2 separate regions of the Homo sapiens genome follow, and region 1 is linked to region 2. Evidence: fine-mapped expression QTL. A gene starts in region 2. The other region holds a variant in brackets. All regions are shown on one strand. Distances are between the middles of the regions. Region 1 overlaps UQCRC2 (ubiquinol-cytochrome c reductase core protein 2). Region 2 holds the start of UQCRC2 (ubiquinol-cytochrome c reductase core protein 2).

Region 1 (11,257 bases), 26 kb after region 2:
TAATTTTTATGTAAATGGTCCACATAAACACTGCAAATCGGGTTCACCCTAGAGAGCTAAAAGCTCTGCTCAAACTAGATAACAATATCCCTGTTATTCAGAGGTTAAACTCTTGATAGCTTGGACATCTGGATAATGACCACTAAGCAGAAATTTTTCTCTAACTTTCTGACATGAGTGTATAAGAGAAATGAAAGTAAATTGGTGAAAAAGTCCCTACCAACAGCAGAGAGAAGAAACCTGGTCTGCCTAATGCCAAAGCCTATCTATATTATAATAATAATGTTTGCAGATTAGTGTTTGCATAAACCTTTAATCATCTAAAGCAGGTTAGAAAATACCCAGCATAAAGGAAAGGGAGCAGTCATTTTAGAAATATTTAAATGAAAAAACAAAGCCGTGATAGTTCTGAAAGAGGTAACCTATTTACAGAATACTTCAGTTCGTGACAGAACTGGCTAAGTAAAATATTAATCTATTTTGTTTATACCGTGAAGGTCCAAGTTTTTTCTAGGCAAACTTAAAGAAATCGTGCCCTGTTTTACTTGGTAGAATATCATACAGTAAAGTCTCATTATCTTTCAGGTTTCTGCATTTAATGCCAGTTACTCAGATTCTGGACTCTTTGGGATTTATACTATCTCCCAGGCCACAGCTGCTGGAGATGTAAGTTGCAAACTCACCAAACTTCTTTCATGAACAAGTTATTTCTCCCCCCCGCCATAAACATGTTTTCGGTTAAAATATGGAATGTTTGAATGCAGTGCAATGACTTATCAGAGCTCTGTATAGTATGATGTCATTGAAGCATTATCTGCTATAGGGAAATTTACACATGTATACTAATGCTTCCAGGAAAGAGGAGAGAATTGCCTCCTTCATGTTTTGGTTCTGGTTGGACAAGTTGCATTGAGTTGGCTCTGAGACATCTAAATTGAGAACCCAGGAGAGGGGAAGACCAGGAGGTTTATTTGCAAGTCTTCAGTGTAGAGATTGTGTTGAAATCAGGGATATGTGTGAATGATTGTAGGAAAAGAAAACTAAAGCTCAATTTCTGGGAAACAACACCATTTAAGGAGCAAGTGGCTAAGAAAAATGGCCCAGGTAAACAGAAAGAAAAAGAGAAGCTGATATATTTGAAGGATAGGAAAGAGAGTATGTTTAACACCATTTTGACCCACAGTGAAATAACATTCATTACCACTGAGAAGTCTGGTAGTTTCAGCAAGCTAGGACATCATGGGTGATCTTAACAGTTTTGACTAGAGTAGTGGAAATTGGGTAAAATGTGTAGTGATTAAGGAATGAATGACAAGTAAGAAATGAGAGGTTGGTGTGGGCTAGTGGAGCTTAGACATTCAAGGAGCAAGTTGTTTTAGGAGAGTTTACACTGAGAGATTAGGTTGAAAGAGACATACTGAGCAAAAAGATCGGAGCAGATATCGGAGATAGAAAATTATAAATGGCTCAAGTCTGAGAAAGGAATACTTGGGATCCAGCACACAAGTGGACCTTTTAGCCTTACAGACAGGCTAATATTGGAAGATATTGGGAAGATGGGGAAGTACCTCCTCAGTGAGACAGGAGGCTAAGTCATGTTTTGACAGACGTGAGAGGAAAGTTTAAAGAAAGTAGTGAAGTTTGGGACAGACAAATAGTGAGGTACACAAAAAGTGGGTATTCGCTGTAGTGTAGATGTATCCTTGAAATCAGCGACCACAAATTCATAGTACAGTCAGTCAGCACTGTCATGTAATTTTTCTTCAGTTGCATTCAGAAGCCTAATAGAGAAATGGAGGAGGTAGGTATTAGGGTTAATCCCAGGTTGGAATCCTGCAAAGTGGGCAGGTGAGAAGTATGAGGAGATAGCAAGGGAGTTGGGAGCATTGGCAAGAGTGATTAAAAGGATGATTCAGGGATCTAGGCTCAATAGAGAAGTGAAGCCAGAGGGGGCCTGATAAATTGAAAGACTGGACAAGTCAAGGAACTAGAGATCTTGATAAAGTGGAAGAATAAGGATAGTGAGATTAAAGACTGAGGTCGGGGTCTTAGAATTGAGGGCTTCAGAGGTATGCAAATTTAGGCTATGATCAGGTCTGGGGTGTGGCTCTGAAAATGGGCAGCTAAAATGAAGGGGAAACAGAGGTCCTAGAATTTAGGTGATCAGAGGGAAAAATAAGTAGCAGACCCAGCCAGCACTGGGATGGAGAAAATCATGGTCAGATTTATTTATTTATTCAACAAATATTTACCAAGTACCCACATCCCCGGAACTTTATTCTTTCTTTCTTTTTTTAAATACCATACAAGGATTCAGATTCCTTCTTGACCCTGGCTTACAAAGTATGGACAAGCCTTACAAATTGGCTGTGTATGGATTACTACTCTCTTCTTAGTGAATAGTAAGAGATAGCAGTATTAATGGCATGACACTGCAAGAGTCTGGGGAAGTTTTAAAGGTGCTTATTCTTTATGGGTGATTAGAAATCCATGTGTTTGGCCGGGTGTGGTGGCTCACACCTATAATCCCAACACTTTGGGAGGTTAAGGTGGGAGGATCACTTGAGCCCACACATCTCTACAAAAAAAGCTAAAAAATTAGCCAGGCCTGGTAGCATGCACCTGTAGTCCCAGCTTCTTGGGAGGCTGGGGCAGGAGGATTGTGTATAAACAGCTGCTTTATGAACATAGGAAGAATAAGGAACCCATAGTGATGACAGCATTCCGCATGGACACTGTGCTGTTTGTCTGGAACTAACCTTCCATCTGTGTTTTTGCCTCAGTAAAGAAGTGTGTCAGTGCTGCAGGAGACTCTGGTACTGACCACAGATGACCAACTTTTCTTATCTGTCCTAGGTTATCAAGGCTGCCTATAATCAAGTAAAAACAATAGCTCAAGGAAACCTTTCCAACACAGATGTCCAAGCTGCCAAGTAAGTCTCAGTATTAACTGTGTTTTATGTTTTTGTTATTTGAAAGTTGTATTCTTTTCAGATTATAACAATATTACAATCTATGCTCATAAGGACTGAGAAGTACAGAAAAGCGTAAAAAGGGAAACATACCCATATCCTACCACCTAAAGATATAATTGTTAACATTTTGGCCAGGCACAGTGGCTCACTAATCCCAGCACTTTGGGAGGCCAAGGCAGGTGGTTCATTTGAGACCAGGAGTTTGAGACCAGCTTGGGCAACATAGCAAGACCTCGTCTCCACCAAAATTAGAGAATAATTGTTAACATTTTTCTTAGTTTATTGATCATGCATTTTTAAACATAATTGTTAATATTGTATATATAGATGCTGCTTGACTTACACTGGGGTTACGTCCTGAGAAATGCGCATATCGAAAATGCATTTAATACCCTAATAACCCAGTCATCCAGCCAAACAAACATAAGTCAAACCATCATAAGTTAAGTTAGGGACCATCTGTATACTTTTTTATCTTATTTAAATAGCATCCTTATTATAGAAGTTTGAAAATTACAAATAAAAGACAAAAATGATCTCTGATTTCCCTAGCAATGATTCTGTTTCCATTGATTCAAATTACTAAAAATTTAAACAATATTCATTGGTGTGTCAAAATACACTTGTGCATTTTCTGCAGTTATAAAGATATCTTTGGGCTTAAAATATTTTTGTGTTTCGTATTACTTTCTTGGTGTAGATTCCCAACTAAGTTAAGAGTTATAAACATAACGAAAGACTCCATGTTAGAGTGTGTGTATGTGTGTATGTTTAAATAATACATTTGACTAGGCGCAGTTGCTCATACCTGTAATCCCAGGACTTTGGGAGGCTGGGGCAGGAGGATCACTTGAGGCCAGGAGTTCAACCAGCCTGGGTAATGTGGCAAGACACTGTCTTTACAAAAAGATATTTAAAACTAGCCAGGTGTGGTAGTGTGTGCCTGTAGCCTCAGCTACTCAGGAGGCTGAAGAGGGGGGATTGCTTGAGCCCACGAGTTTGAGGCTGCAGTGAACTAAGATCACGCCATTGCACACTAGCCTGGGCAACAGAGCAAGACCCTGTCTCTTAAAAAAAAAAAATGTATTTCTAAGTCACAAATCTAAAGAGATTGTACCAGTTTATAATCATACCACCAGTATATAAGAGTACCTATTCTACAATAGTTTCTTTCTTCATAACTAATTTATACCCAAAAAAGATCTGATTTTGTTTTGTTTTATAAGAAAGACTAAAATACTTGTCTGCTATTTGGCAATTTATAAATCCCCACTGTCCAGATTGAAAGTGCTATCAACACTCCTAATTCATTAGTAGTTCGAGGGTTTCTCTAAAAGAGACAGACTTGGGACAAAGTTGGAAATCAACCTGCATTTTCATACAGCCGCTTAAGACATTTAAGTTTGACTCCATCTACTTAGAACAATTCAAAATGTGAATCTTGCAACTCCAGTGGTCGTTATGATCATTTAGTATTGCCCACAGGGGAAGCAGAATTACAACCCAGGATGGAACAACCTTTTGGTCATTTCTGTTCCCATTAGTATTGTTAGTTTTGTTATGCTGAGCACACTACAAAGTTGCATCTCTTGTATAAGTACAACACAATTTATTAAATATTGTATACATAGAACCAAGAATCGATAGGATGCAGGGCTGCTTGATTGTACCAGAAACAAAACATGATGAGAATACATTGAAACACTGGATTTACTTAAGAAAAACCTAAGTTTTTCAAATCTAATTTATTTAAGAAAACGTATTTTCTTAATAAGTGTAACACAGTTCTTACAAGGTATGGTAATAAGCAGAAAGTAGAATTTTGAATATTAATGTCAAAGTATGTTTTCTGCCATTTTGATGGAGTTGATACTTTTTCTTGTAAGTTCTTCCTGTAGTGAAAGAGAGAAAGTGAGGTGTCATTGCCGAAAGGACACACTAATAACCTCTTGGTAGTTTATTGCAGGTAAAATCATTTTTTAATTAAGCTGACAACGTGGTAAAACTGCAGCATTAAATTGTAATTATGTTTAAATGGAAGTCTTTCTGTAGAGTGTTAAAGGATGATAAACGTTTGAGGTTCAAATAACTCGACTGTCTTATCAAACACCATGTCTATAAGTAATAAGTTTCTGGGAGAATTGTGAATTGGATTTTGTTTTATTTCAAGTGGATGCTTTTGTGCCCATATTTAAGCTGCCGTTGCTTACAAGACCTGTACTGCCCTTCCCCACCTGCCTTTTCCATCATACCCTATGCTCACAGACAAATCTCAGCAAGAGGCAGGAGTTGCTTCACTAATCAAAACCTTACATTAAAATAGTTTTACCTAGATCTAAGTTCTAGTCCCAAATCAAAAAGCAATCTGTGGAGTTTTCAGTATAATTTCGTACTGACAGCTTTCCAAATAGTAACGTAAACGGTTCACGTACTTGGTGAACTGAAGAAATAGAATGGAGGCCATTAGCACTGTAAGTTGTTAGTTTGCCTGTTTACCAAAAATATGTTGAGTTTCGGGGCACATACCTTAAAATTGCCCTGTTTCACTGTGTAAGAGGAACTGGCTTGACTACTTCACCCTTGGTGAAAACAAACAGGCCCTAAAAGAGGCAGCAACAGCTGAAGTGGATATCACAGAAATAAACAGACAGCAGAAGCTCTTCAGACACCCCCGAAACCTGCCAAAACTCACAGGTAATACAAGTGAAACGATAGCATAAGAAGAAAATAAACATGAGAATCTTCAAACTACAAGCATTGAACGGTATCCTCCATCCAAGAAGAGAACCCACTTCATACAAGGAAAAGGCAAAAGGAAAAGGTCAAGACTGTGACCTTTATAACACTGTGACCCCAGCTGTGGGCCAGGTGGAGTTGTCTGTGGTGACACCAAGTACAGGCCTGACACCCTGGTTTGACAGAAGGCTCTTCAAGATCCCTGGTCTTCACACTGTAGCAGCCAAAAGGTAGGTTTACAATATACACTGTCCCCAACTTGCCATGGATCAATTATAATTTTTCAACTTGACTATGGAGGAAAACCATCGCAATTTCAGCTTCCAGTCATGGGTCACATAACGATGGGGATACATTCTGAGAAATGTGGTGTTAGGTGGTTTCATCACTGTGTGAACCTCAGTGTTCAGACAAATCTAGATGGTATAGCCTACTACACACATGGGCTCTATGGTATAGTCTATTGCTCTTAGGCTACAAACCTGTATAGCATGTACTATAGTACTGAATACTGTAGGCAGTTATAACACAAAGGTAAGTATTTGTGCATCTAAACATAGGAAAGGTACAGTAAAAATACAGCACAAAAGATAAAAAAATGGTATGCCATTTTTATGGCATAGCTCCTGCTTTCGAGTGAGTCAGTGAGTGAGTGGTGAGTAAATGGGAAGGGCTGGGACATTACTGTGCACTGCTGTAGATACTAAACACTGTAAACATAGGCTACGCTAAATTTATTTTTTTAAAATTGCACTACAACATTATGTTGTCAGTAAGTAATAGGAATCTTTCAGCTCCCTAATAATCTTAACGGGACCACCATCATATATGTGGTCCATCATTGACCAAAAACATCATTATGTAGTACATGACTATACCTTGAATTTCGATCTTTTCCTAGGCTAGTGATATGCAGTACATGAGATAATCAATGCTTCCTTACAAAATGGGCTTATGTTAGAAGACTTTTGCCCAGCTGCAGGCTATTGTAAGTGTTCTGAGCACATATGAGATAACCTGGGCCAAGCTATGATGTTCGATACGTTAGGTGTATTAAATGCACTTTTGACTGCCATCTCAGTGGATGACAGCCTTCTCACTGACAG[CAG/C]AGAGATCTTCCTCACTGTGCCAGTGGGCAGGAGAAAGAGCATGCTGCGACTGGCCAGTGACATGCAGAGGATCCAGATTGCACAACCGGATCCAGAGGCCTTGGGAAGCATTAGGGAGCTCTCCAGCTGTCTCACTCAAATCTGTAGCAGCATATGGACCCACAAATGGAGGCCAAAGTGGGCCCTCAATTGGACACTTTGGCAACCCTGAAGAGACTTCTTCCCTTCAGACTTACTGTTTTAGTATGTTCCAGAGAAGGGAGTGGCATTCTTCTTGGGGAATTCAGGAAGAGGGAGACACGCTGTTACTCTATCCATTAAATAAAGCTTTGATGTTCACAGCCCCCCGCCACCACTCAGAAAAAAAAAATAATTGCCTTGCTCTCTAAAACTGACTTCTGCCTTTTATTGGACAGGAACAAGCTGAAAGCTGGATACCTAATGTCAGTGGAGTCTTCTGAGTGTTTCCTGGAAGAAGTCGGGTCCCAGGCTCTAGTTGCTGGTTCTTACATGCCACCATCCACAGTCCTTCAGCAGATTGATTCAGTGGCTAATGCTGATATCATAAATGTAAGTAAATGAAAACTTAACGATTTAACAACAGAGAACTTAACCTTAATGATCCAATTTCAGAAGGATGCATAAGCGTCCTTGGGCAGTGTATTATTCTTATGTTTGGTGCTCATCTACTTAATGTGGAGGCAGGAGGGCTCATTCCCATAAGATCCGCAACAAGCTTCCCTGTCAGCTCGAGTATATGTATCTTCCTCCTTCAAATAAACTACCATTAGGTTAAACTGTGATGTCAGTAAGAGGGCTGCCATCCACTGAGATGGCAGTCAAAAGTGCATTTAATACACCTAACGTATCAAACGTTAGGTTAAACTAATGGTAGTTTATAAAATGGGCTTATGTTAGATGACTAGAAGTAAAGAAGAGTCAAATATTAGCAGTTTCATATGATCCAACCTAAATAGTGAAGTTTGCTATTTTTCCTCTTCAGTCCTAGCAATATTTCACCATCTAGCATCTTAAGATTTTCTTTACTCTTCTCAGCCTAGGACATTCTCTTGTTCTTGCTAATTTTTTTTTCACATATATTATTGTTCCCTACAATATTGAGCTGTTTTGAGGGCAAGGACTATGTCATGTACTTCTTTGTGTTCCCTGCTGTGCCTAACAAGCACATGACCTACAGAATTAATCCAAAGTAAGTGGGTTTTCCCCATTTTCTACATTAAACTTGCCAACTTGCTTTCTACTGTAGATGTCTCGGCCATCTTCTCACCAACAGGTCTACCTTGTATAGGGACAGTGGGGATAAGAAAAAATAAAAAACTAAGCTGGGTGCAGTGGCTCATTCCTGTAATCCCAGCACTTTGGAAGGCTGAGGTGGGCAGATTGCTTGAGCCCAGGAGTTCAATACCAGACTGGGCAATGTAGCAAAACCCCATCTCTACAAAAAAGTACAAAAATTAGCTAGGCTTGGTGGCATGCGCCTGTAGTCCCAGCTACTCAGGAGCTCATGGGGCTGAGGTGGGAAGGTGGCTTGAGCCTGGGAGGCAGAGGTTGCAGCGAGCCGAGATCATGCCACTGTACTCCAGGCTGGGCAACAGAGTGAGACCCTGTCTCAAATAAAAAAGAGACAAGGCTATTTTAAGATAGTAACCCTGACTTGATTTCACTTCGCCCCAATCGTCATTTCATACTCTTCTTTTTTTTTTTTTTGAGACGGAGTCTTGCTCTGTTGCCCAGGCTGGAGTGCAGTGGCGCGATCTCGGCTCAGTACAACCTCCGCCTCCCGGGTTCACGCCATTTTCCTGCCTCAGCCTTCCTAGTAACTGGGACTACAGGTGCCCACCACCACGGCCGGCTAATTTTTTGTATTTTTAGTAGAGACGGGGTTTTACCATGTTAGCCAGGATGGTCTCGATCTCCTGACCTCGTGATCCACCCGCCTCAGCCTTCCAAAGTGCTGGGATTACAGGTGTGAATCAACGCGCCCAGCCCATTTGGTACTCTTTTAAATGGCTGTCTTCATCTTATATCCTATCATTATGTGCGTCCCAACCCGACTGCTTCCACCACCACCTCTCCTTCATAGTAATAAGATAAGCTGGCCTGACAGAATATGGGGGCTGCTGCTCCACCTACACCTGACTCATGATACTACACTTAACCAGCCTTTGAACTTGGAAGTAGTGGCATAAAGAATCCTCTAGGGTATCAAGTTTTACTTTTAAGTTAACAATCAATGTATTTTTATTGACCCAGACTATTTGCCATTGTAATACCGAAACAGGAAAGTATATCCCTGCCTGAAGCCACACTACTCTATTTGACAGTGTCAGTGTTGTTTTCCTTATCTCTCTTTGAACAGCTACCCTCTTACCAGTGTTGCTCTTGCTTGGTTCATTACACATACAATGGGACTTTCAGAGAAACAGCTAAGCTTTTCCTCCCACACTGTCCCAAATTAAAGCACCAGCCATCTCCTAGTTAATTTTCACAACAGCTATTATAGTAATTGCTGGCTTAGAATGTCCTATCGAAGGCCAGGTTGGTGGCTCACGCCTGTAATCCCAGCACTTTGGGAGGTTAAGGTGAGTGGATCACTTGAGGCTAGGAGTTTGAGACCAGCCTGGCCAACATGGCGAAATCCCGTCTCTACTAAAAATACAAAAATTAGCTGGGCATAGTGATACATGCCTGTAATCCCAGCTCCTTGGGAGGGTGAGGCAGAGAATTGCTTGAACCTGGGAGGCGGAGGCTGCAGTGAGCCAAGATCGCAGCACTGCACTCCACACTGGGTGACAGAGCGAGACTCCACCTCAAAAAAAAAAAAAAAAAAAAGAATGTCCTATCCATAAATTCTTGAAATGACAAAATAAGTTCGCCTGCTTGATGATATATATTTTTATTTTTGTTAATTTTGTCTTTTGTTTGTTTCTTTAAAGGCGGCAAAGAAGTTTGTTTCTGGCCAGAAGTCAATGGCAGCAAGTGGAAATTTGGGACATACACCTTTTGTTGATGAGTTGTAATACTGATGCACACATTACAGGAGAGAGCTGAACGTTCTCTCAGCCCAGAGCAGCAAACACATGAAAGTCAGAAGTCTCTAATATATCATTTGTCTTTTTTCCAGTGAGGTAAAATAAGGCATAAATGCAGGTAATTATTCCCAGCTGACCTAAAGTCAATAAAACATTCTGTTTAAGTGTTTTTCTTACGTTTTTCTCAATGAGTTAATCAACAAGTATTTATTATGTGCTGATATCTTTGTTTTAGATGCTTTAAAGGAGACAGGAATATAATTATTGAGTATAGAAGCATCAGAAACTATTAAAATTAAGGCTAAGTGGCTATCGGGGTAAATAGTGCCAGATTACTATTGGTGGCGTTTAAGATGAAAGCAAGTTCAAAATTTGTCATTTTGGGTGTCAACAGCTAAATGGTCTGGTTTTTACCCCTGTTTTGCCTTTTTTGCAATAAAATTATTTCCAAAAAACATACATTTCCTATCAATCATATCCTATATTCCCATTCATTCATTTTTTTATGTCTGATTTATCTTCATTGACAGAGTTTTGTTTTTCTCTCATCTCCTGTCTCTCCCTTATCTGTTACTATCCTGTCTCTTCCAAATAATTAACTCTCAATTCAACATTTACAGTAAAAGAAGGGCTAAAAAGGGGAAAAAAAAAGAATTCTAATGTGAATAACTAGCCAAAGAATTATGTCTCTTAGTTATTTTAATTATAGTACTTGAAGTTTACCAAAAAAAAGAGAGAAACTAAATATTTAAAGAAAAATGTAGTGTTTACATAAAGTGACATTCTCTACTATGTTCAGACATTCTGATATTGGATTTCTCTACGGCATTTTCTAAAAGAAAGAAATTCTTCTCAAAAAGGAGGGTCTTATTCTGAAAATAAGATTTGTGAGGCCTGCAAGAACCCAAGGAAGTCTTTAGATAATCCTGTTGAAGAACATCTCTAAAGGCTTTATAACGCAGTCATAAGAGAAGAGAATTGGTGAGTCTACAGACAGTCCTTGATAAGTACAGCAAACTTGTGCCTGGTGAGGCACAAAACTTGGGTGTCTGCAAGATAAATGCTCATATGACCACAGATTTGCTAACCAACCTTTGATACCAGTTGGGCTTTACCCTCTTCAACTTGGGCACAATCTTCCAGCCAAAATGCATCTGAGGTAGAGGAGGTAGAGGAGGAAGAGCTTTCATTGTCTTGCTTCACCATTATCCAGTATGGAGAAGGGGCCCTCACTTCTTTCTTGTCGTCTCTGTGAATCATCACGTCACAATTAATGTCTTTTCCTACACTAATAGTATGGTTCTTCTTCTTATATCCATGCCAGTCTCTGGAGATGGATATTGGTCTCCTTGCAGGGTGATGCACAGTTGACCACGGATATCTA
Region 2 (11,257 bases):
TTTGCTGTGAGTCATGAGCTGGCCTGTGCCATGTGCAAAGGGAGAGATGCTGTGAGGCCTATCAGAGAATGGCACCTGCTAGACTGAGAACTGAATGTGTTACCGGTGGACGATATCTGAGTTACTGGCGGTGAATCTGTGTACATCTGCAGCTACCTCAATTCTTGCCTCCTCAGAAGAAAGAAATCAACAGAGGGGCATAAGGCAGAAAAAGAGACCAAGGCAAGTTTCAGAGCAGGAGTGGAAGTTTATTTAAAAGGCTTTAGAACAGGATAAAAAAGGAAAGGAAAGTATGCTTGGAAGAGACCCAACCAGGCACTGAGGTCAAGCGCTCTGTTTAACAGTAATCTTTATAGGCTGGCCCCTTTCTCATGATTCTTCCCTTAGGGTGGGCTGCCCGCATGCCTGGTACCCCCCTCACCCGTTGGAGGTGAGCATGCGCAGCGTGTTTAAGAAGTTGTACCCATGCCCATCTGAGACTTTCTTCCCTATTCTGGTGGAGTAACCCTGGAAAGTCATACTCCGCCATTTTGTCTCTTAATGCACATGCCCAGGAAGTTGCTTCTCCCTGGTGTCTGCATTCAATTAACACTGTTAATTTAGTGCAACGGGTGTGGACTATCAGGAAATGGCCTCTCCAATTTATCTTTTTTTTTTTTTTTTTGAGGCAGAATTTCGCTCTTGTTGCCCAGGCTGGAGTGCAGTGGCGCGATCTCGGCTCACCCAAACCTCCGCCTCCTGGGTTCAAGTGATTCTCCTGCCTTAGCCTCCCGAGTAGCTGGGATTACAGGCACCCGCCACCATCCCTGGCTAATTTTGTATCTTTAGTAGAGATGGGGTTTCTCCATGTTGTTCAGGCTGGTCTCAAACTCCCGACCTCAGGTGATCCGCCCGCCTTGGCCTCCCAAAGTGTTGGGATTGCAGGTCTGAGCCACCGCGCCTGGCCCAATTTATCACTTAGAGAGGCAATGTGATAACTGCCAAATCATCACCCGACATTCCTGGTGGATGGGGGGAGAGCCCTCTCCTGTCCCGCTCATACCTGTCTAACTACCTGTAACAAAGGTAGACCCAGAGTTTACATAGTGCAGAAAATGTCGGAATTCTTACTGAGAGCCACAGTAGAGATACCTTACTGAGCACCCCTTACAGTTATAACTCCAGAAAAGCCATGCCTTAGAAGTAAAGATCATGTCCTAGAATAAGATCAAAAACCTAAATAGACCCACCCTAATAAAGAATAAAATAAAAGCCTGACAGAATCAAAGGGAGCACGCAAAATATACGAAAGCTGGGAAAAGACGTTTACTTCTGTGAACCAAAAGTATCTGAGACAGGTCTCAATCAATGTGGAAAGTTTCCATTGCCAAGGTTAAGGATAAGCGCCTGAGAGGTATGTCTATGCCTTTCTCCAAAGATGATTTCAAGGGCTTCAATATTTAAGGAGAAAGGATTGATATGGGTGAAAAGGAAGAAAATTTGAAATCTTAATTCCAGCTCTTTGGGAGGCCAGTCCAGTGGACTGCCTGAGGTCAGGAGTTTGAGACCAGCCTGAGCAACATGGCAAAACCCCATCTCTATCAAAAATACAAAAATTAGCCAGATGTGGTGGCATATGCCTGTGGTCCCAGCTACTCAGGAGACTGAAGTGGGAGGACTACTTGAGCCCAGGAAGTACTGGAAGCACTCAAGCGTGAGTGACAGATCAAGACCGTCTCAAAAAAAAAAAAAAAAAAAGAAAAAATTTAAAAATGTGTGGGTATACAAGAGACAAAGGGTTGCATCCCCTTGAGTCTTTGATCAGCCTTTCACTGAATATACAATTTACATGTGAGAGGATGGGCAGAGGAATACTCACTTATGTCATTGTCTGGCTCAGAGAATCTTCATTTTTTTTACATAATACAATGTAAACAATAGGGCAGAGGAAGCCATCAGATACACATTTGTTTAAGATGGACTTTGAGTTCTGTCCTTTGTCCTGCACCTGTGAAAATAAGCTATCAGGCCTGGTGCGGTGGCTCACACCTGTAATCCCAGCACTTTGGGAGGCCGAGGTGGGTGCATCACCTGAGGTCAGGAGTTCGAGACCAGCCTGGCCAACATAGTGAAACCCTGTCTCTACTAAAAATGCAAAATTAGCCAGGCATCATGGCACATGCCTGTAATCTCAGCTACTCAGGAGGCTGAGGTGGGAAAATCTGCTTGAAACCAGGAGGTGGAGGTTGTAGTGAGCTCAGATCATGCCATTCCACTCCAGCCTGGGCAACAAGAGTGAAACTCTCCAAAAAAAAAAAAAAAAAAAAAAAAAAGAGGGAGGAGGGAGGGAGGAAGGGAGGGAGAGAGAGAAACAGAGAAAGAGAGACAGAGAGAGAGAGAGAAAGGAAAGGAAGAAAAGGAAAGGAAGGAAGGAAGACAGCTATCAATTTACATTGCCAGGGTGAAATTCAACAAAACTGTTTTAGGGTAAAGATCCTCAGATCCACATGGAATTGCCCTGTGGGCAAATTGTAAGGTAAGTTATGTAGCTTTTTATCCTTATAGCTATCTTATTTAGGAATAAAACGGGAGGCAGGTTTGTCTGACATCATTCCCAGCTTGAATTTTCCCTTTGGCTTAGTGATTTGGAGGCCCTGAGATTTTTTTTCCTTTCACACTTCCTAACTCATTTTATCTATGACAGAAAAATGCATGAATGGGGGGAATGAAAGTGAAAGTTAAAGCCAGTATCACTCTGGAACATAAATGCACAAATCCTAAACAAATAAGTAGCAAATTAGGTCTAGCAATATATTAAAAGAATAAAACATCCAGACCAAGTTGGGTTTATAACAGGAATGAAAGGTTTATTTATAATTTGAATCAATCAATATAACTTAACACAGAATAAGACCAATCTGTTCACCTCAATACATGGAAAAAGTATATGTGACCAAAAACAATAATTATAGAATATTAGAAATTGATATGAACTTTTTTTTCCCCCCCGAGACAGAGTCTCGCTGTGTCGCCTAGGCTGGAGTACAATGGCAGTGATCTCGGCTCACTGCAACTTCCGCCTCCCAGGTTCAAGCAATTCTCCCTGCCTCAGCCTCCCGAGTATCTAAGATTTCAGTCAACTGCCACCATGCCCGGCTAATTTTTGTATTTTTTTTTCAGTAGAGACAGGGTTTTGCCACGTTGGCCAGGCTGGTCTTGAACTCCTGACCTCAGGTGATCCACCCACCTTGGCCTCCCATAGTGCTGGGATTACAGGCATGAGCCACTGTGCCTGGCCCAGGGAATATTTCATCAGAGATAATACCTGACAGGGTAGGATTCTGAAAGGAATGGGGAAGGAAATGCCAACATCGAAATTATGCATTGGGGAAGCCATGATTAATGCCTCTGGCCCTAAGATGGCAAGGTAATGTTGTTCCCAAGTATAAACCCACATCACCTTCCTCTGGTGTGTTTTACTCCTACTGTTGCCTGCTTTCTCTTTACATTCTCCCACCCCATACTCACCGCGAGCGCTCAGGCTAGGTAGTTAGGCTCCATAGAGTCAAATTGGACCCCACATTAACGAAACTAACAATTCGAGCTTTCCAGCAATGAACTCATCTGCTCTTCCATGTCTACTCTTTTCCTGTCTGCTGGTTTCCTCTCCCAGGGCTTTCAGTGTGTTCTACGCAGAAACCAGTTCAAGGACTGGGTTTTCTTCTGCAATAAAATGCTGGAGTTGTGGCAGAGACCTCCACAGTGAGAACAGCCACGGAGTTGGCTAGGAGGTGACATGATGTGGAAGTGGTGGATGTGTCCACAAGATGGCACTCCTAATTTGTAGCTTAATGCTTAATAGGACATTTTGCAATTGACAAACTTGGGATTTTATGATTTATGTAGCTGATATCATGAATTATGTTTCAAATCCTGCCACATTTTGAACAGAATTTATTTTTGCCCCTTTCTGATATTGGGTCATAACCTAAGAATGAGAGGACATTATAAGCAGGTGTGGGTGTGTGTGTGTGTGTGTGTGTGTGTGCACTTGAGTGTGGAGACTTTTGTGTTCCTCCTACCTGACCTGAACTGTTGAATGATGAAGTTACAATGATTGGACTCAGGGGTGCAGCTAGCTAACTTGGGAATTGGGGTTTTGAAGTACTGGAGACAGCTTTGTATGCCATGTTAATGAATTTGAATTTTATCCTGAAAAACGTGGCTGTCGTTGAAGAATTTTAAGCAGGCAGGTGGCTTGATCAGAGCACTGCTTCCCAGATTTCACTCAATGGTACCTGTATAACACATTCATGATTTTTGCTGTATCTCCGTATCATCAAGTTACTTAACGTTTTTACACCAACTTTTATTATTTTATAAATGTACTTAAAGAGGAAATTCACTACTAGCATTGCTTGCCATAATCAAAATAAATATATTATTAAAATGGAACAGTGCTAAATAAGGTGTACACATGGACATAGAGTGTGGAATGACAGACAATGGAGACTCCGAAAGGTGGAGGGGTGGGAGAGAGGTGAACGATGAGAAAGTACTTAATGGGTACCATGTACATTATTCGGGTGATGGGTACACTAAAAGCCCAGACTTCACCATTACTGCAATATATCCATATAACATAACTGTACTTGCGCCCCTTAAATTTATACAAATTTTTAAAAGGAAAAAATGGAAGTGTTCATCTATGTACCAACTTAAAATCATCTCACGCACCACTAGTGTTAAATCTACCACATGTGGGGAAACTGTGTGGTATGAATTGGGTTGAGGGCGTCCCCAGCAGGCACAGAAATTGGGTTGGTGCCAGGTTCTTAATGCCCAGATCTTAATTAGAGAGCCCAAGTCCGTTGTAGGCCTGGAGCAATTCAGACACAAGGCAAAAAGAAAGTACATTTGCCTATGCCTTGTAACGTCTACACCACCAGCCTTTCTGAAACTATTGTGCATACGAAGTCATCCCAGGATCTTGTAAAAACACCGATTCGGATCCAATATGGGACCTGGAGTTCATACATTTCTAATCAACTCCTAAATGATATTGATGCTGATACTGTCGGTTTCCCAACCAAGCAACGTAGCAAGGTACGAAACTCTAAAGTCCCTAAAGGGCAGGGACCACGCCTCTCGCGTTGGCATAGTGCCTAGCTCAAGGCACTTTCTGGGTTAACACTCGCTGAGGACCGGAGTGAACGCCCCCGCCCCAAGTCGTCACGTGACTGACTTTCTCCAACTGCCGGTTTCGGCTCACATAACACACCTACTATCCAAAACATTTCTATTTTCCTAACACAAAAACTATAGCTAAGTTTTTATATTCTATGTAGCCCCAGCCTAGGACGTAAATTCCACGAGACCAAAAGCCTTGTGATGATTCCCCGAGGTTGCTGACCCTCCCGGTGTGTCCCGGGCCTGCTCTGGGGGACACAGCGGCGAATACGTTGAACGAGGCCCCTGTTTCACGGAGCTAAAGATCCAGTAAGGACTTCACCCAGCGAGAGGCAACTACGCCGGGCTTCGATACCCAATACCTCTGCAGAAAGGTGGAGTGGCAGGAATCTCCTGAAGCCTCCAACGTCCAGGAACGCGGAAACCCAGGGCCTCCAGTGCAGGTGTCATCCCGGAGGGCGCATGCGGAGTCCCAAGAGAGGCGCGTCCCATTGGACAATGCTGAGCGGAAGAGCCCAAGATAGCGGGGGGAGTTGTGACAGGCTGCTGCAGACGTACTTAGAAAAGGGGTGCATACTGGATATTCAGGCTAGGAGAAGAACGCAAAAAGCAGTGACGTACATTATTCTCTGCATATATTTACTTGGGAAATTGTGCGTCTCCCTATTCTGAGTCTTGGAGGAATTGGACTGGTCCAACCTTATAAAGAGAGCAGTAGAGCGCGGCAGTATAGAGAGTACCTCACGAAGGGGACGTGGGAAAGTGTTAGCGGGGAACGCTGGGAAACTCCCGGCCTCCGCCACCATCTTGCTTTCCTTTAATCCGGCAGTGACCGTGTGTCAGAACAATCTTGAATCATGAAGCTACTAACCAGAGCCGGCTCTTTCTCGGTGAGCTCAGGTGGCGGGTTTGGGAAAGGGCTGGGGAGCAGTGTGTCGACAAGGTGATACGAGGCGGAGGTGTCTGGTCTGGGGTCTGGGCCTTGGGATTCGGTCTGCCCTTCAGCTGAACCCTGCGGGCCAAGTGGGCTGCAGACTGGGTCAGGCTTTGGAGGCCCAGCTCATGCTGTGAGCACAAGAGACCTAACACCGGGAAACCTGAAGAGAGGGGCAGGACGTGAGAGCGGAGTTGAAGCGAGTCCTTGGAGAGACTTCTGAAGGTCACTCCGGTACTCAAGTGCTGGAGAAAGAGACCGTGAAACCCAGGGGGAGCGGGAGGACGGCGCACTTAGCCCCCCACCTTCACTTTATCCGCTGCAGCCTCTGCTCCTTGGTTTATCACGGAGCGTCAGTTTCCCCAGCGAATAAAAGTATAAGAAAGGAGCTAATGCAGATAGAACACTTATTACAGTACCTGGAACTTCATTGTTAAATACTATGGTGTCTTAGTAGTCTAACGTTGCTTTTCTTGATCGTATGTTAGACGGTTCCTCCAAGACGTCTCTGTTTGTCCTCAAAAGCTCCTTAATTAAGTTTCCCCTTCAAGCCTAAATTAAACATAGCTGTCACTTGGGGAAAACTCACACATCAGGGTTATATCACTGTGGGACAGTGGTTATTAAGAGGGGTAAGGGGGAACACTTAAAAAATCATAGCGAGGGACAGAATGCCCCCAGGGAACCGGTGGCGATGTTTGGAGACATATTTAGTTGCAACAACTTGTAAGGAGGGTGCTATTGGCATGGAGAGGCCAGGGATGCTGCTAAACTTCGCCTTACAGCAAAGAATTATCTAGCCCCAAGTGCCAGTAGTAGTACCTGTGTTGAGAAACCCCCCTAGATGGAGATGCAGAAGACCAGACCTGGGCATGGAATGTTCTTATGCTTTATGTTTACATAAATGTGCTGTGGGCTATATCGATTTAGGCTGTAATTGCATTAACCTTCCAGGTATACCTAGACACACCAGTGATTACCCTTGGAGGGAAGCACGGTTAGATTGGCAAAAGACCCCAACATTTCCTTCTCCATTCTATTTTGCAACAGAAAAAGCTCAGAGAAAACAGTTGGAGAGGCCCAAAGTAAACAAATTGCAGTAAACTTGAAAGCAATTATTTATGTGTCTAATTTTAGCACTTTATATAGGAGAATAAACTTAGATATATCTTGTTATTAGAACAAAATAATTTAGAAGATTGCATGACAGTTACTAGGATAATTTGCTGATTTGAATGGGACGATTAAGAAGCACATTACCGGCGGAGCGCGATGGCTCACACCTGTAATCCTAGCACTTTGGGAGTCAGAGGCAGGCGGATCACTTGAGATGAGGAGTTCGAAACCAGTCTGGCCATCATGGTGAAACCCCGTCTCTACTAAAAATACAAAAAAAAAAAAAATAGCCGGGCGTGGTGGTGGTGGGCGCCTCTAATCCCAGCTACTCAGGAGGCTGAGGCAGGAGAATCTCTTGAACCCAGGAGGCGGAGGTTGCAGTGAGCCGAGATCGCACCGCTGCACTCCAGCCTAGACGACAGAGCGAGACTCCGTCTCAAAAAAAAAAAAAAAAAAAAATTACCAACAAAGAGTTACTATTTGGGCACATTTGGTTGGAAAACACCTAAAATCTCACTTGGTAACGGAATTATAGATTATTCATATTTGAATTGCTATGCCCATATATCTTAAAAGTTTACTTTTTGGAAAATTATAGGCCAAAATTACAAAGAAGGTTAACTATACCATACCCAGCAAACTAAATTGATGACGATAAAGTAAAGCTAATTGTAATTCATAACTGAAAAGCAGTACTAAAAGCAAGTGATAACCAGCAGCCAACCTAGTACAGCACTAATGATGTACAACAAACAGCCTTCTGGACAGCACAGAGTGGAGGCATTGCAGACTGTGCAGGGATGTCCGGGAAACTCCAGTGAGGAGGTGTTCATTGGGTCTTGGGAGCACCAAATTTTATTCACTCATCATCTCCTCTAATAACCTCATGAACTTTAGTCATAATCAGAATGATTTGTATGGCATTGTATAACATTTGCCAAAACAAACTGAATAAAATGAATGCATTTTGGGTCCATTATCTAATATTTAATGGGACCCTTTCACCCTACCAGTAACTGCATTTTATATATTGAGAATCTGATGTGGATGAAGCCATTATTAATCTCAGGATGACATACATGTCATAAATGTTTTATTTAGTCAAAAAAACTAAGACCTTTGGTTGTGTGGTCTTAATACAGCACACAAGAGTGAAGATACAATGGAAAATATTGAGGGCTTGGAGGAAGTTGGTATATACTTTGTCTTTTTCTTTTTTTTTTCTTGAGACGGAGTTTTGCTCTTGTTGCCCAGGCTAGACTGCAATGGCACAATCTCGGCTCACTGCAACCTCCGCCTCCCGGATTCAAGTGATTCTCCTGCCTCAGCCTCCCCAGTAGCTGGGATTACAGGCATGCATCACCACGCCCCGCTTATTTTGTGTTTTTATTAGAGATGGGGTTTCTCCATGTTTGTCAGGCTAGTCTCGAGCTCCTGACCTCAGGTGATCCGCCCACCTTGGCCTCCCAAAGTGCTGGGATTACAGGCGTGAGCCACCGCACCCGGCTAGTTTGTCTTTTTTAAAGGTTACTAAGATGATTAAGGAGATGAAACCATTTCAATTGGAAATTAGACTGAACGGATGACATTCATTGGGCAGATAAAAGAAGCAAGAAGCTGAAACCTATAAAAGGTTGTGGACACAGGCCAGGTGTGGTGGCTCCCACCTGTAATTCTAGCACTTTGTGAGGCCGAGGCGGGTGGATTGCCTGAGCTCAGGAGTTTGAGACCAGCCTGAGCTATGGGGTGAAACGCCATCTCTACTAAAATACAAAAAATTAGCCAGGCGTGGCAGCATGTACCTGTAATCCCAGCTACTTGGGAGGCTGAGACAGGAGAATCGCTTGAATCCAGGAGGCAGACATTGCAATGACCCGAGATCGCACTGTTGCACTCCAGCGTGGGACACAGAGCACGACTCCAACTCAACAAAAAAGGTTGTGGATGGGGTGATCTGACACTTTTTCAAAAAATGCCAAAGCTTTAGAACTACACAGAACCATGAAACTTTTATAAGGTAACTGAAAGATAAGAAAATACAGTGATTCTTTACATCATTTAAAAAATAAGCATCAAGAACTCTATAAATCACTAATAAATAGAGGTTTAAGAATGGCTTGGGTAAACTGGTGGGTTAGTAAGTCCATAATAAGTTATGCAGCTAGGCGGGGTGCAGTGGCTCACGCCTGTAATTCCAACACTTTGGGAGACCAAGGTGGGCAGATCACTTAAGATCAGGAGTTCAAGACCAGCTTGGCCAACACAGTGAAACCCCATCTCTACTAAAAAATACAAAACAAAAACTAGCTGGACATGGTGGCACGCACCTGTAATTCCAGCTATTTGGGAGGCTAAGGCAGGAGAATGGCTTGAACCCAGGAGGTAGAGGTTGCAGTGAGCTGAGATTGCGCCACTGCACTCCAGCCTGAGCGACAGAGAGACACTCTGTCTCAAAAAAAAAAAAAAAATGTTATGCAGGTAAATCCTCCCATGGAGGTGGTTATTGCTCCTTCCACCCCCGAACACCCTCTGTCGCTTGGGTACCCTAAGATACCATGCTTTTATATAAAGCACTGTTCTTGTGAGAAATACGTGTAACCTGTGTTTTTTATGTTTAGAGATTTTATTCCCTCAAAGTTGCCCCCAAAGTTAAAGCCACAGCTGCGCCTGCAGGAGCACCGCCACAACCTCAGGACCTTGAGGTTAGTCCCACTAACTTGCTCGCTGGAAGCTATACATGCCTTACTCTCCTTGGTAATACGAAGACATTCATTATATCTCTACTTTATTTTAAATACAGTTTACCAAGTTACCAAATGGCTTGGTGATTGCTTCTTTGGAAAACTATTCTCCTGTATCAAGAATTGGTTTGTTCATTAAAGCAGGCAGTAGATATGAGGACTTCAGCAATTTAGGAACCACCCATTTGCTGCGTCTTACATCCAGTCTGGTGAGTATCTTCACTTCCTCAAGTGTTTGGAAATGCTGTGGTATCTTGGTCCTGTGAAAAAGAAAAACTAAGATCAATGTCTTTATATTTTGATTCCTTGACCTGCCATAACAAATTACCACGGACTGGGTAGCTTAAACCAAATAAGTTTATCCTGTTACAGTTCTAGAGGCTAGAAGTCCAAGTCAAGGTGTCTAAGCCAAGCCAAGATATCAGCAGGGCTGTGATCCCTCTAAAGGTTCTAGGAAGGCACAAATCCTCCCCTGCCTGTTCCTAGCTTCCAGCAGTTGCCCACAACCCTTCATGTTCCTTGACCTGCAACTGCATCACTGCAGTCTCTGCCTTTGTTGTCACATGGCCTTCCTTCTGTCTGTGTCCACATTTCCTCCTGATAAGGATACCAGTTACATTAGATTTAGTGCCCACTATAATTCAATATGATGTCATCTTAAGTACTTAAATCTGCAGAGACCTTATTACCAAATAAAGTAACATGCAAATATTCTGGCTGGACATAAATTTGGGGGGGAACACTGTTAAACCCAGTACTGTCCCCTAATGTAAAATGAGAAACCACAAGATATTTGCCACAGAGAAGCACTAAATTAGTATCCATATGAATGTTGATGTTAGAGCATAAGAAATCAGTAAACAAATTTTTAACAGGAAGTGCCGCAAATTGAAAGAAAATTAACTCTTTTTTTCCCATATACAAGTCTCTTTCAGAATAGACTAATGAATCCAGTAAGCTTGTATTTGACAGTGGAAATTTTACATGAATGTACTTAATGTAAAAATGTATACTTAAGCTTTTTGTTGAGCCTTGTTTTATAATTCTTAACTAAAAAGGATGCAGGAATTTAGTAAAATTCTTTTTAAATCTGCTCACAACAGATTTTGATATAGTGTGATGTTTGGCAAACTTGGCATTGAAAAGCTACAAAGATAATCATTCTTTCTTTTTCAAGACGACAAAAGGAGCTTCATCTTTCAAGATAACCCGTGGAATTGAAGCAGTTGGTGGCAAATTAAGGTTTGTTAAATAAGTAATAGAAAATAGTGAAAATGCCAGAAAATATTCAATTTTA

The links. PIP is the estimated chance that this variant, and not a neighbour inherited with it, causes the effect. A credible set is the group of variants that fine-mapping cannot tell apart.
Region 1: its variant is the best candidate, but not a certain one, in a credible set for the expression of UQCRC2 in whole blood (INTERVAL, PIP 0.62).

What each region holds. Positions count from the first base shown.
Region 1 is chr16:21,973,311-21,984,567 of GRCh38, forward strand. It overlaps UQCRC2 (ubiquinol-cytochrome c reductase core protein 2), which reads left to right. Exons shown (of 14, transcript NM_003366.4): 11 at 586-666; 12 at 2,857-2,933; 13 at 7,237-7,390; 14 at 9,778-10,350. The coding sequence ends at 9,861. PDZD9 (PDZ domain containing 9) reads right to left here. Exons shown (of 4, transcript NM_001363519.1): 4 at 10,555-11,257. The coding sequence ends at 10,957. It also overlaps the pseudogene LOC100420644. Among named protein-coding and RNA genes, the nearest start is that of PDZD9, 22 kb to the right of the region's middle. The variant CAG/C (reference allele first, on the strand shown) is at 6,818.
Region 2 is chr16:21,947,398-21,958,654 of GRCh38, forward strand. It overlaps UQCRC2 (ubiquinol-cytochrome c reductase core protein 2), which reads left to right and starts at 5,964. Exons shown (of 14, transcript NM_003366.4): 1 at 5,964-6,059; 2 at 9,838-9,921; 3 at 10,020-10,169; 4 at 11,138-11,202. The coding sequence starts at 6,027. It also overlaps a transcript of PDZD9 not described here. RefSeq lists enhancers at 5,297-5,756, 5,845-6,562, 6,077-6,246, 6,257-6,306.